Homo sapiens: one gene and its partners. The protein of the gene in region 1 interacts with the protein of each later gene in a pairwise test. Each region holds a gene or a part of one and is shown in the gene's direction. Other genes may lie near its edges. The genes, in order: GIT1, ARHGEF6 and PAK1.

Region 1 (3,822 bases):
TGTGTTCCTGCCTGCCTGGGGAGTCCAAGAGAGGAAGGGGGCAGGGAGCCCTGGAGAATGTGCATCTTCCCCTTTCCTTAGGCTTGGCCCACCTCGCCACACGATCTCAGTCAAGGGCCTCTCCTCACCCCATGGGCTTCTATCTCAGCCTTTTCCACTTTGGCAACCCTGGGGGTGAGAGTGAAGGCCTCAAGATGCCTGTCCTGTAGGTATCTCTGGTGAGCAAGGCCGGGGACATGTTACGGGACAAGCTACAGGCTGATTTGTCTCTTCATAGTGTAGATTGCAGAGTGGGACAAATGTTGGGCTCCTCTTCCTCCCTTATGGAGGTAGAATTTGTGTGTGTCAATGCCTGCACCTGAGTGTTCATCCTGATGGGCTTTTACATGTGTGTATACCCATGTAACTACTGCTCTGATCATGTTATAGAATAAGGGTATCCAATCTTTTTGCTTCCCTGGGCCACATTGGAAGAAGAATTTTCTTGGGCCACACCTAAAATACGCTAACACTAATGATAGCTGGTGAGCTAAATAAAACAAGCAAAAATAAAAATAAAAAATAAAGTCACAAAAAAGTCTCATAATGTTTTAAGAAAGTTTATGAATTTGTGTTGGGCCACATTCAAAGCTGCCTGGGCCGCATATGGACTGCAGGTTAGACAAGCATGTTATAGAACATTTCCATCACCTTAGGGGGCTTCCAAGTACCCCCTCCCAGTCCGTGCACCCCAGAGGTAACCACCATTCTGACTCTACCCCAAGGACTACTCTCGCCTGCCTTCATGATGTGGGCTTTTCCCTTAGTCTAGTGGAGATCTGGCCCTTAGCTCAGGGGAGGGAGGCCTGAGGCTAGCCTGTATGTGCAAACCTACTGGCCCTGGAGGCCACTGATGGCTTCAGGTGGTGGCAGGAATTCACCGTAGTAGAGGCCTCCATGGGGTTGGCACTGGTTAACGTGATCCCAGGATCACGCCTGCTACCTCTCCACACATACAGACCCATACCCTGCCGGTGGAGCCAGAAGCGCAGGGGGAGGGCTGACGAGTTCCCTTACAGTTCCTGTCCTTTCCGTCCCAGGTTTGGTCCAAGGAGCTTCTTGACGCAAGGATCCCTTCACCTTAAACTACAATCTGGGTAGTCCCAAGGGCACTTGCACAGAGGGAGGAGACAGAATGGTTAGGGTGGGCGTCCCATCTGTGTCATCCAGAAATGAGCTGACACCAATAGCGGCTGCCCAGACCAGGACAGTGTCCTTTGCCTACCATTCTTCTCAGGTCACCTGGAGGAGAAGGAGAACCCCTCCCCCAGGCTGGGGGAAAGTGCCAGGCAAACCCTTGGACCACACTCCTGCATCCTGGTCTTGGTTACTGCCATAGCCAGGGTCACTCACCACATCTGGTCTGCCCATGGCTTAGGGCTCTGGAGCCATTGGCCGTGGATATATAGTCAGCCTTCCATGCCTGGCTTCTCCGGTAGGACCACAGACCTCAGATCAGCCCATTTATGATCCTGCCCTGGGCGGCTCCCCACTTACAGGAAACCCCACCAAGAGGAATTTGGGCTGCATCATTTCCGGCTTCCTGCCTGGGCTGCTGGAGGTGGCTGGCTGGCAGCCCCCTGACCCAGTGGTGTTTGGAGTGGGGAGAGGGAGGTCTCCACACCTGGGGTGCCTCACTATTTGGGTAAAGCCAGCCCAGAAGTGCATGCTAGGGCTCCCCCTCTTGGCGAAGAAGGCTGGTCCCTTCCTCCTGAGCCCTGGAGTCAGCCCCCCAGGAAGGTGTTGGCGGTCACCTTGGGCATCCCTCTGTTGCCCTGATTGGGAGGGGGTCCCTTAAAAAGCCTAAACCCGCTGCACTCCAGCCTGGGCGACAGAGCGGGACTCCGTCTCAAAAAAAAAAAAAAAAAAAAAGCCTAAACCCAAAGACAGGCCTCTCTCCTTTACTTCCTGTTTTCATGCCTCAGTGGGGGTCACTTGCTGTGGGCAGAGCTCAGGCTGGGCCCCTGACTCAGAGTCTCCTCAATTTTCCTGGGAACTTTGGTGGAAGTCCTTAGAGGGGAAAGGCCTGAGAATTGCCTTCTAGTTGGGAGAGATTCTTATCCCCCTAAGCCTGTCCCTCCCCTGATGGGGATACTTCTGAACACCCTGAGCGCTACAGGGCAAGGCAGAGAGCCAGTCCCCCACCCCCACCCCAGGACAGGGTTTCCTGAGACAGGGTGGGGGCCGCTGGGCAGAGCAAAGTGTCCTGGGAGAGAGGCGCCCTGCCCCCACTCTCAGGCGGCACACAATGGCTGCTTTCTCCCCCGTGACCTTTCCGCAGCCTGAGTCGTATGCAGCTGTCTCCCAAGGGGCCTAGGATGGGTGGCATCTCCTCCACCCTTGAGAAGAACCCCGGAACTCCCACCCAGTCCTGGCCCTGCTTCTTCTCCCAAGTTCACTTTTCCCAAAAGAGTGGAGAGCAGGCTATAGAGGCAGAGGGACAGCAGCAAGTGTGGACATGGCATGGTCTCAGGCATGAAAGTGCCACATCCTGGCAATTCTACTCATTAGCCTCGCATCCTTGAATAAGCCCTTTAACCTCTCTGAGCCACTGTTTCTTCATCACAGAGGTAGCATGTCCTACCTTGCCTGACAGTTGCAAGCAGCATCACACATAATGTACCCAGCTGGTACCTAGTGGGTGCCCAGTCAAGCCCAGCTCCTTTGCTCTGTCCATCTTCCTTAAGAGGGCTCCAGCTTACACCCTCAGTGATGATGGCAGGAGGCTCCAGCATGAAAGGACCTCACCTGCTGGCAGGAGGCCAGAGGCAGGACCTGTGGACGGGTGTGATCTGTCAGGCATGTTTCAACAGCATCTGGCATGCAGCAGCATCTGGGTTGCATCCCCTTGGGGATCCCTTCCTCCCTTCGGGACGGGCTGGGGCAGAGACCTCGTTTCCTGGGAAAAGGCTGAGAGACTGGTAGCAGTGGCTGCAGGGCAGGAAACTGTGCCTGCTGAATGGGCCCTGGGGACTGCATATCCCAGAGGGGTAAGGATGTAGGAAAGGGCATGGCTCTGTCAGCCCCCAGCTGTGAGCTCTTGGGGAGATCCCTCACTGGTAACCTGGCCGTAGTGATGGTCCCAGCTCCTAGGCTGTTGGAGACTGAGTGAGTGAATGTGTGGAGAGTACTAGGCTTGGCACGGGCCAGAGCAGGTGCTCAGGAGGTCTGGCCCATCATCTGGCTCCGGCTGACCCTTGCCCTCACCCTGGCAGACCCTGGCTGGGCATCCATCAGCAGGGGTGTGCTGGTGTGTGACGAGTGCTGCAGCGTGCACCGGAGCCTGGGACGCCACATCTCCATTGTCAAGCACCTTCGCCACAGCGCCTGGCCTCCCACGCTGCTGCAGGTACAGGGCTCAGTCGGGTGGTTCTTCCTTCCCCTCAGGCAGAGTGTGCTGAGCATGAGGGCGTTTCCCCCTCACCCACATACACCCCCATCTGGAATCTGCAGCTTCCAAGGGGCAGCACCCCCCTAGGGCAGAGGCTAATCCTGACCCTTTCCTCCCATCTACTCACTTCATGCAGAAGAGTAGCTCACACCCCTGCTCTGCCACTTATCAACGTGGTCGTGTAGCATTGAGCAAGTTGCTTCACCTCTCTGAGCCTTGGCACACTCATGGGATCTGTGTCTTTGGGCAGCTGGACTAGATGGAGGTGTGGTGGTGCGGGCACACAGTAGGCCCCCTTGGTACCGTTTCCAGCTACGCCAGCCACAGCAGGCGCTCAGGAAGTGTTTCCCCCATTGCTTAGCACGCAGTGGGCACTCTCTCACTTGGCATCT
Region 2 (3,822 bases), on another chromosome or scaffold:
AAGTTATTCAGTGGTGATTTCTGAGATTTTGGTGCATCCATCACTTGAGCAGTGTACACTGTACCCAATGTAGAGTCTTTTATCCCTCACCCTACTCCCACCCTTCCCCCTGAGTCCCCAGAGCCCATTACATCATTCCTATGCCTTTGCATCCTCATAGCTTAGCTCCCCCTTATAAGTGAGAACATATGATGTTTGGTTTTCCATTCCTGAGTTACTTCCCTTAGAATAATGGTCTCCACCTCCACCCAGGTTGTCGTGAATGCCATTATTTTGTTCCTTCTTATGGCTGAGTAGTATTCCATGGTGTGTGTGTGTGTGTGTGTGTGTGTATGTATACATATTATATATATGTATATTACATTTTCTTTATCCACTCTTTGGCTGATGGGCATTTAGGCTGGGTCCATAACTTTGCAATTGCAAATTGTGCTACTATAAATATGTGTGTGCAAGTGTCCTTTTCATATAGTGACTTCTTTTCCTCTGGGTAGATACTCAGTAGTAGGATTACTGGATCAAATGGTAGTTCTACTTTTACTTCTTTAAGGAATCTCCATACTTAAGGTTTTCCATAGTGGTTGTACTAGTTTACATTCCCACCAGCAGTGTAGAAGTGTTTCCTTTTCACCACATTCATGCCAACATCTAATATTTTTTGTTTTTTTTTTAATTGTGGCCATTTCTGCAGGAGTGAGGTGATATCTCATTGTGGTTTGATTTGCATTTCCAGTGCTTAGTGATGTTGAGCATTTTTTCATATGTTTCTTGGCCATTTGTATATGTTCTTTGAGAATTGTCTATTCATGTCCTTAGCCCACTTTTTGATGGGATTATTTGTTTTTTGTTTTTGTTTTGTTTTGTTTTTTGAGACTGAGTCTCACTCTGTTGCCCAAGCTGGAATGCAGTGGTGTGATCTTGGCTCACTGCAACCTCTACCTCCCTGGTTCCAGCGATTCTCCTGCCTCAGCCTCCTGAGTAGCTGGGAATACAGGCGCCCGCCACCATGCCTGGCTAATTTTTGTGTTGTTAGTAGAGACAGGGTTTCACTATGTTGGCCAGGCTGGTCTCAAACTCCTGACCTCAGGTGATCCGCCCGCCTGGGTCTCCCAAAGTGCTGGGATTACAGGCGTGAGCCACCGCACCCGGCCTATTTGTTTATTTTTATTTCTACTTTATTTATTTATTTATTTATTTATTTATTTATTTATTTATCTATTTATTTATTTTTGCTGATTTGTTTGAGTTCCTTGTCGATTCTGGATATTAGACCTTTGTCAGATGCATAGTTTGGGAATATTTTCTCCCACATTGTGAGTTGTCTGTTTACTCTGCTGATTATTTATTTTGCTGTGCAGAAATTTTTTAGTTTAATTAGGTCCCATCTATTTATCTTTGTTTTTGTTGCCTTTGTTTTTGAGTTCTTGGTCATGAACTCTTTGCCAAAGCCAATACCTAGAAGAGTTTTTCCAATGTTGTCTTCTAGAATTTTTATGATTTCAGGTCTTAGATTTAAGTCCTTGGTCCATCTTGAGTTGATTTTTGTAGAGAGGTGAGAGATGAGAGATGCGGTGAGAGATGAGGATCCAGGTTCATTCTCCTACATGTGGCTTGCCAAATATCCCAGCACCATTTGTTGAATAGGGTGTCCTTTCCCCAGTTTATGTTTTTGTTTGCTTTGTCAAAGACCAGTTGGCTGTAAGTATTGGGCTTTATTTCTGGGTTCTCTATTCTGTGTCATTGGTTTATGTGCCTATTTTTATACCACTACCATGCTATTTTGGTAACTACAGGCTTGTAGTATAGTTTGAAGTCGGGTAATGTGATGCCTCTAGATTTGTTCTTTTTGTTTAATCTTGCTTTGGCTATGTGTGTTCTTTTTGGGTTTCATATGAATTTTAGGATTGTTTTTTCTAGTTCTGTCAAGAATTATTATGGTATTTTGATGGGAATTGCGTTGAATTTGTAGATTGTTTTTAGCAGTATGGTCTTTTTCACAATATTGATTCTACCCATCCATGAGCATGGGATGTGTTTCCATTTGTTTGTGTCATCTATGATTTCTTTCAGCAGTGTTTTGTAGTTTTCCTTGTAGAGATCTTTCACCTCCTGGGTTAGGTATATGCCTAAGTATATTATTTTTTTTGCAGCTGTTGTAAAAGGGGTTGAGTTCTTGATTTGATTCTCAGCTTGGTTGCTGTTGGTGTATAGTAGTGTTACTGACATATTGATTTTGTATCCTGAACTTTACTGAATTCATTTTTCAGATCTAGGAGCTTTTTGGATGAGTCTTTAGGGTTTTCTAGGTATACAATCATATCATCAGCAAACAGTGAGAGTTTGACTTCCTCTTTACCGATTTGGATGCCCCTTATTTCTTTCTTTTGTCTGATTGCTCTGGCTAGGACTTCCAGGACTATGTTGAACAGAAATGGTGAAAGGGGGCATCCTTGTCCAGTTCCAGTTCTCAGGAAGAATGTTTTCATCTTTTCCCTGTTCAATATAATGTTGGCTGTGGGTTTGTCATAGATGGCTTTTATTACCTTAAGGTATGTCCCTTCCATGCTGATTTTGTGGAGGGTTTTAATCATAAAGGGATGCTGGATTTTGTCAAATGCTTTTTCTGCATCTATTGAGATGATCATGTGATTTTTGTTTTTAATTCTGTTTATGTGGTGTATCACATTTATTGACTTGCATGTGTTAAACCAAACCTGCATCCCTGGTATGAAACCCATTTGATCATGGTGTATTATCTTTTTGATATGGTATTGGATTCAGTTACCTAGTATTTTGTTGAGAATTTTTGCATCTATGTTCATCAGGGGTACTGGTCTGTAGTTTTCTTTTTTTGTCATGTCTGTTTCTGGTTTTGGTTTGAGGGTAATACTGGCTTCATAGAATGATTTAGGGAGGATTATCTCTCTCTGTCTTTTGGGATAGTTTTAGAAGGATTGGTACCAATTTTTCTTTGAATGTCTGATAGAATCATGTGACATTTCAAGGAATTCATATATGTAAAGGCCCCAGAAGAGTGCCCGGAATGTAGTAAGTATTCTCTGCATGGTAGATATTATTATTAGCAATGCTGGTAGCTTTGCCCCAGATAAACTTTGCTTCCTTCACCATTTTTCCTAAAGTTAGCCCTAGGACCAGGTTATATCTGTTTCAGAATATTTTATTCCATTTTCCCCTATTGCCTAATTTGCACTCTCTCTCTCAATCTCTGTTTCTTTCTCTCTCTCTATTTATGTGTGGGTCTGTGTGTGTGACTTTTGAGGTAGGTGTGATGGGTGACCACTTTATATCCCTTGTAGAATAATGTCTACTATGGAATTTTCTTTTTTTTTTCTATTATGGTCCAGACTCTTCAGGAAATTTTAAATTTTTCTTTAATAAATACTATGATATTTTCTTTTTTATTCCTTTTTTTTTTTTTTTTTGAGACAGAGTTTTGCTCTGTCACCCAGTCTGGAGTGCAGTGGTGTCATCTCTGCTCACTGCAACCTCTGCCTCCTGGGCTCAAGCAATTCTCATGCCTCAGCCTCTCAAGTAGCTGGGATTACAGGCACGCGCCACCACGCCCGGCTAATTTTTGTATTTTTAGTAGAGACGGAGTTTCACCATGTTGGCCAGGCTGATCTCAAGCTCCTGACCTCAAGTGATCTGCCCACCTTGGCATCCCAAAATGCTGGGATTACAGGCATGAGCCACCACGCCTGGCCAATACTATGGTATTTTTTTTTTTCAAATAAAAACATGGTGAAGTTGCCAATGATTTCTGCATTCTAAAGCTGCCAGAAGGTTTACTTAGCTTCTTTG
Region 3 (3,600 bases), on another chromosome or scaffold:
TTGGCCAGTCAGCTAAGTAGGGAAGAGCTTGAAGACATGAAGAAATGTGTATTCAAATAACGTTAATATTTCAGTGTGCTTGGAGCAAAAAATAAATGATGTGAGACAAAGCTAGAAAGGCTAGTGTAAGCAGTCAGGTAATAAAGTGCCAAGTTCAGGAGTTTGAACTTTATCCTGAAAGCAATAAAATCCTTTCGGTGTTTAAACGGGAGGACATCATCAGATTTGTGCTTTTATAAGGCTACTCAGGTAACTAGTGAGAAAAATAGATTGAGTTTGAAGAGACTAAAGGTTGCTCCAGTTGTTCAGGTGGTGGTAGTAGAAGACGACACAGGCAAGGACTTGAAAAATATTTAGGAGAAGCTACAAGACTTGGTGTCCAACTTGATATGGATGTTGAGAGAGGAAGAACGGGGAGCTATTAGTATGTCTAGGTTCCTGGCTTAGGGGATTGTTGAATGGGTGGCCCATTCATTGAGAACGGAAAGGAACGTAAGAAGCAATTTTGGGGGGGAAATAATAATAATAGCCAACATTCTAAAGGGCTTGTTACTATTACCATGGTAAAACTGAGGCTTAGGAAGACCTAGTTAAGGTACTACTTATTATTACAGAAAAATTACGGCTTAGAAATGTCAAGGTCCTATCACTAATATTTGAATAGCTAGGATTTCAAGCAAGGCAACCTGATTCCGGACTCTTAGCCTTTCTAATGCTGTCTCAGTTTCGCACATGTTGAATCTGAGGTACGAAGAGTATGCAGGTAATGCTGCTCGGGAGGTATTGGGAAATACACAATCTGAGCTCAGGAGAAAGAAAGCTTTGGGTCGAAAGTACCCTCCACGGTAGGGGAAAAAACGTGAAAGGAAGCCCATTCTTTTCGTATGTCAGTTCACATTAGTTCAAACATCTCCGTTATAATTTCTTTGTCTTCCTCCCACCCCTGCCCCCTCTCCCACAGAAAGAAAACATAATACATGTCTGGCTGTGAGATCACACGACATCGGATAGTTTTCAAATTCAGCCCTTGACAACGAGCTCATAGATGCGGTGGTGCTTTGTTAACCTGAAAAGGACCCTCAGCGCCGGAAGTTAGCCGTCTTTCTCCATCCTGACTACTACAGTAGCCCTCCCAGAAATCGTCCCAAAATTGTCTGATAGAAAGGCTGCACGGAAACAACCCGCCACGGACAGCGGACCGAGAACAGTGACGCGACGCGATGACGTCACGCAGCAAGCGGGTGATTCCCCAGCCTCTGGCGTCACGCGCCGATGACGTAATCCCAGGCGTTCGCCCTCATGCGGGCCAGGGTTTGGCCTCGCTCCCACGGGTCGGTCAGGCCCTCCCCGCCCCCTCTCACCTGCGGGAGGCGGGGCGGGCACGGCTCCACCGGAGCCGCAGCCGCCGCCGCCGCGCCGGGGAGGGGGAGTGGGGGAGGGGGAGGGGGAGAAGGGGAAAGGGCAGAGGGGAGGAGGAGGCGGGAGGAGGAGGAGTAGGGGAGCCAGTGAACTAGGCGGTCAGGCCTGCCGGGCGGCGTACAATAGCGCGGCTGTGGGCGGGGGAGGCTGCCCTCCCGCGGCTGCAGCCGGAGCCGAAGGTGGTGGCTGCACAGTAGACGCCCCCTCACGGCTTCCCCCACACGCTCCCGCCCCCTCGCTCGCCCATCGCGCTTCCCTCACAGGCTCTGCAGTCCTCCCCCACAGACGCCTTCCCCCTTGGACTCTCATTCCCTTTTCCACGGAGCCCCGCGCTTTCGTGAGCCCCCTCGAGGAACCTGGTCTCCGCATCCAGTTACCACCTCCTGCCTCAGAGGCCATCTGAGCCCTTCGCACCTCGCCCCTCAGTCCCCCCTTCCCCCCCCGCCCGCGTCGCCTCGCTCCCTCCCGCCCCCCCATCATCCCTTCCCTCGCAGTTCCCCTGTCCTGAGGGGAGCCCCGCCACGGGCAGCGCGGCGGCGGCGGCAGGAGGGAGAAAGTGAAGCGGTAGCTCGCGCACACTCGCGCCCTCACTCCCGGCTAGGCGGCACCCACCGCCGGGAGGAGGAGGAGGAGCCGAGAGGAGCTGAGCGAGCGCGGAAGGTGAGAGCGGGCCTACCGCCCAGTACCCCTCGCGTCCCGGGCTGCCAGGGCTGGGGCGCGGGGGTGGGGACGGGTGGAGTGGGGGTCTGGGCCCATTTATTTCGCGTTGCGGGGCCGGGCGCCTGGGCGGGAGGAGGCGCCAGGTAAGGTGAGGCGGGCGGCGCCCCGCGAGGCCCGCTCCCGTCGGGCCAACAAAGGCCCCCTGTGCGCGTACCGGCGGGGTCGCGGGTCTCAGACGCCGGGCGATTCGAGAGACCTGGGAGAGGGAAGGGGCGGGGCGGGGCCAGGCCAGGCTGGAGCCGGGAGGCCACACGAGTACCGGTCCGGGACCGAGTCCGTCCCGAACTTCGCAGTCCTGCGGCGCTCACCCTGTCCCGCTACGAGGAGGCACAGCAAAGCGGCGCCCAGTTCCTTCTGCATGGAATAAATGACCCCTTCCAGGCTTGGACAGTCACCTTTAGGGTTCTACTCCCTGAAAAATAAGGGCTGGTAGGACTTGACTTACGCAGCCCCTCCCCCACCCCGGAATATTCTGTAACTTGGGAAGTGAAAAACAACCGGGGAAGGAGATTTATAGTTATTTTATGTTCATTATTACGTTTGAAAAGACATGATTGTTGTAGCCTTCGCTATCCTATTTCAGCAGTACACATTACTGGGAGTGTTTTGGAAGAATACTTGAGAAGTAGTGGGTGTGGCGTTGTGAGCAACGTCCTTGGTTTTTAAACCCCTTGGATAATTGTTCTACTGTTACAAAAACTGTGAACAGTGAAGGGAAGGGTTAGTTCCGTGGTTACTAATAAAAATTCAGATTCATTAGTCTTGACTTTAAGAATTGTTCCTGAGAACAATCTTTAATTTTGCCTCCTACATTTTTGGGTTCTCTTTCAACTCTGTCAGGAGAAAGTAGGAATTATCAGTACAGATACCTCATCTCTCTTACCCTGTGGCTTCATCTACTTCTTGTGTGACCTTGAGCAGGTCACTTCCAGCCTTAAAAGCTCCAGAAGTTTGGTTTTATGCCCCAAAACGGGCAAGTAGCAAGCACCGGACTCAGCTTTCAAGAGTCCACTGAAGAATTCCCACACTGTGAAGTCTTTGCTGGCCTCCATCCTGTCTCTCCTCTTACAGACAGAGCTGATTTCTTCCCATTGGCCCGGTGGGATTTCTACCACAGCACTTACAACATTTTGGTTCCTATTTGGAAAATTCTAAGTCAGGTGCATATAAAAACTCCCCACCTCAACTAGAAACTATGCCTTTCAAAAAGGGTTTTGGGAACATTGACCCTGAAAACTTCCCATACTTTCCCTGAAGCTTATCCATACTCTTTAACTACATGAGCTCATGGGTCTACCTTGGTAAATTTGCTTATTCAGTCAATTCGTTTATCCAACATTACTGGAGTTCGGAGAGCTACTATGTTTCAGGCCTCTTGCTAAGGCTATGGGGATTCAGTCTATTAAGATATTCCCTGTCTTCAAAGAGCTCAAAGTCTAATGGGTGAGGTAGACAAGTAAA

What was found.
Region 2: the proteins of GIT1 (region 1) and ARHGEF6 interact in binary tests that used the Homo sapiens proteins (3 or more experiments, as listed by UniProt).
Region 3: the proteins of GIT1 (region 1) and PAK1 interact in binary tests that used the Homo sapiens proteins (3 or more experiments, as listed by UniProt).

The regions. Positions count from the first base shown.
Region 1 is NC_000017.11:29,583,049-29,586,870, reverse strand, and holds part of GIT1 (ARF GTPase-activating protein GIT1), read left to right. Parts: intron 1-3,254; coding exon 3,255-3,388; intron 3,389-3,822. UniProt on the Homo sapiens protein: GTPase-activating protein for ADP ribosylation factor family members, including ARF1.
Region 2 is NC_000023.11:136,774,272-136,778,093, reverse strand, and holds part of ARHGEF6 (rho guanine nucleotide exchange factor 6), read left to right. Parts: intron 1-3,822. UniProt on the Homo sapiens protein: Acts as a RAC1 guanine nucleotide exchange factor (GEF).
Region 3 is NC_000011.10:77,472,031-77,475,630, reverse strand, and holds the start of PAK1 (serine/threonine-protein kinase PAK 1), read left to right. Parts: upstream 1-1,536; 5' UTR 1,537-2,079; exon of another isoform or gene 2,080-2,222; intron 2,223-3,600. UniProt on the Homo sapiens protein: Protein kinase involved in intracellular signaling pathways downstream of integrins and receptor-type kinases that plays an important role in cytoskeleton dynamics, in cell adhesion, migration, proliferation, apoptosis, mitosis, and in vesicle-mediated transport processes.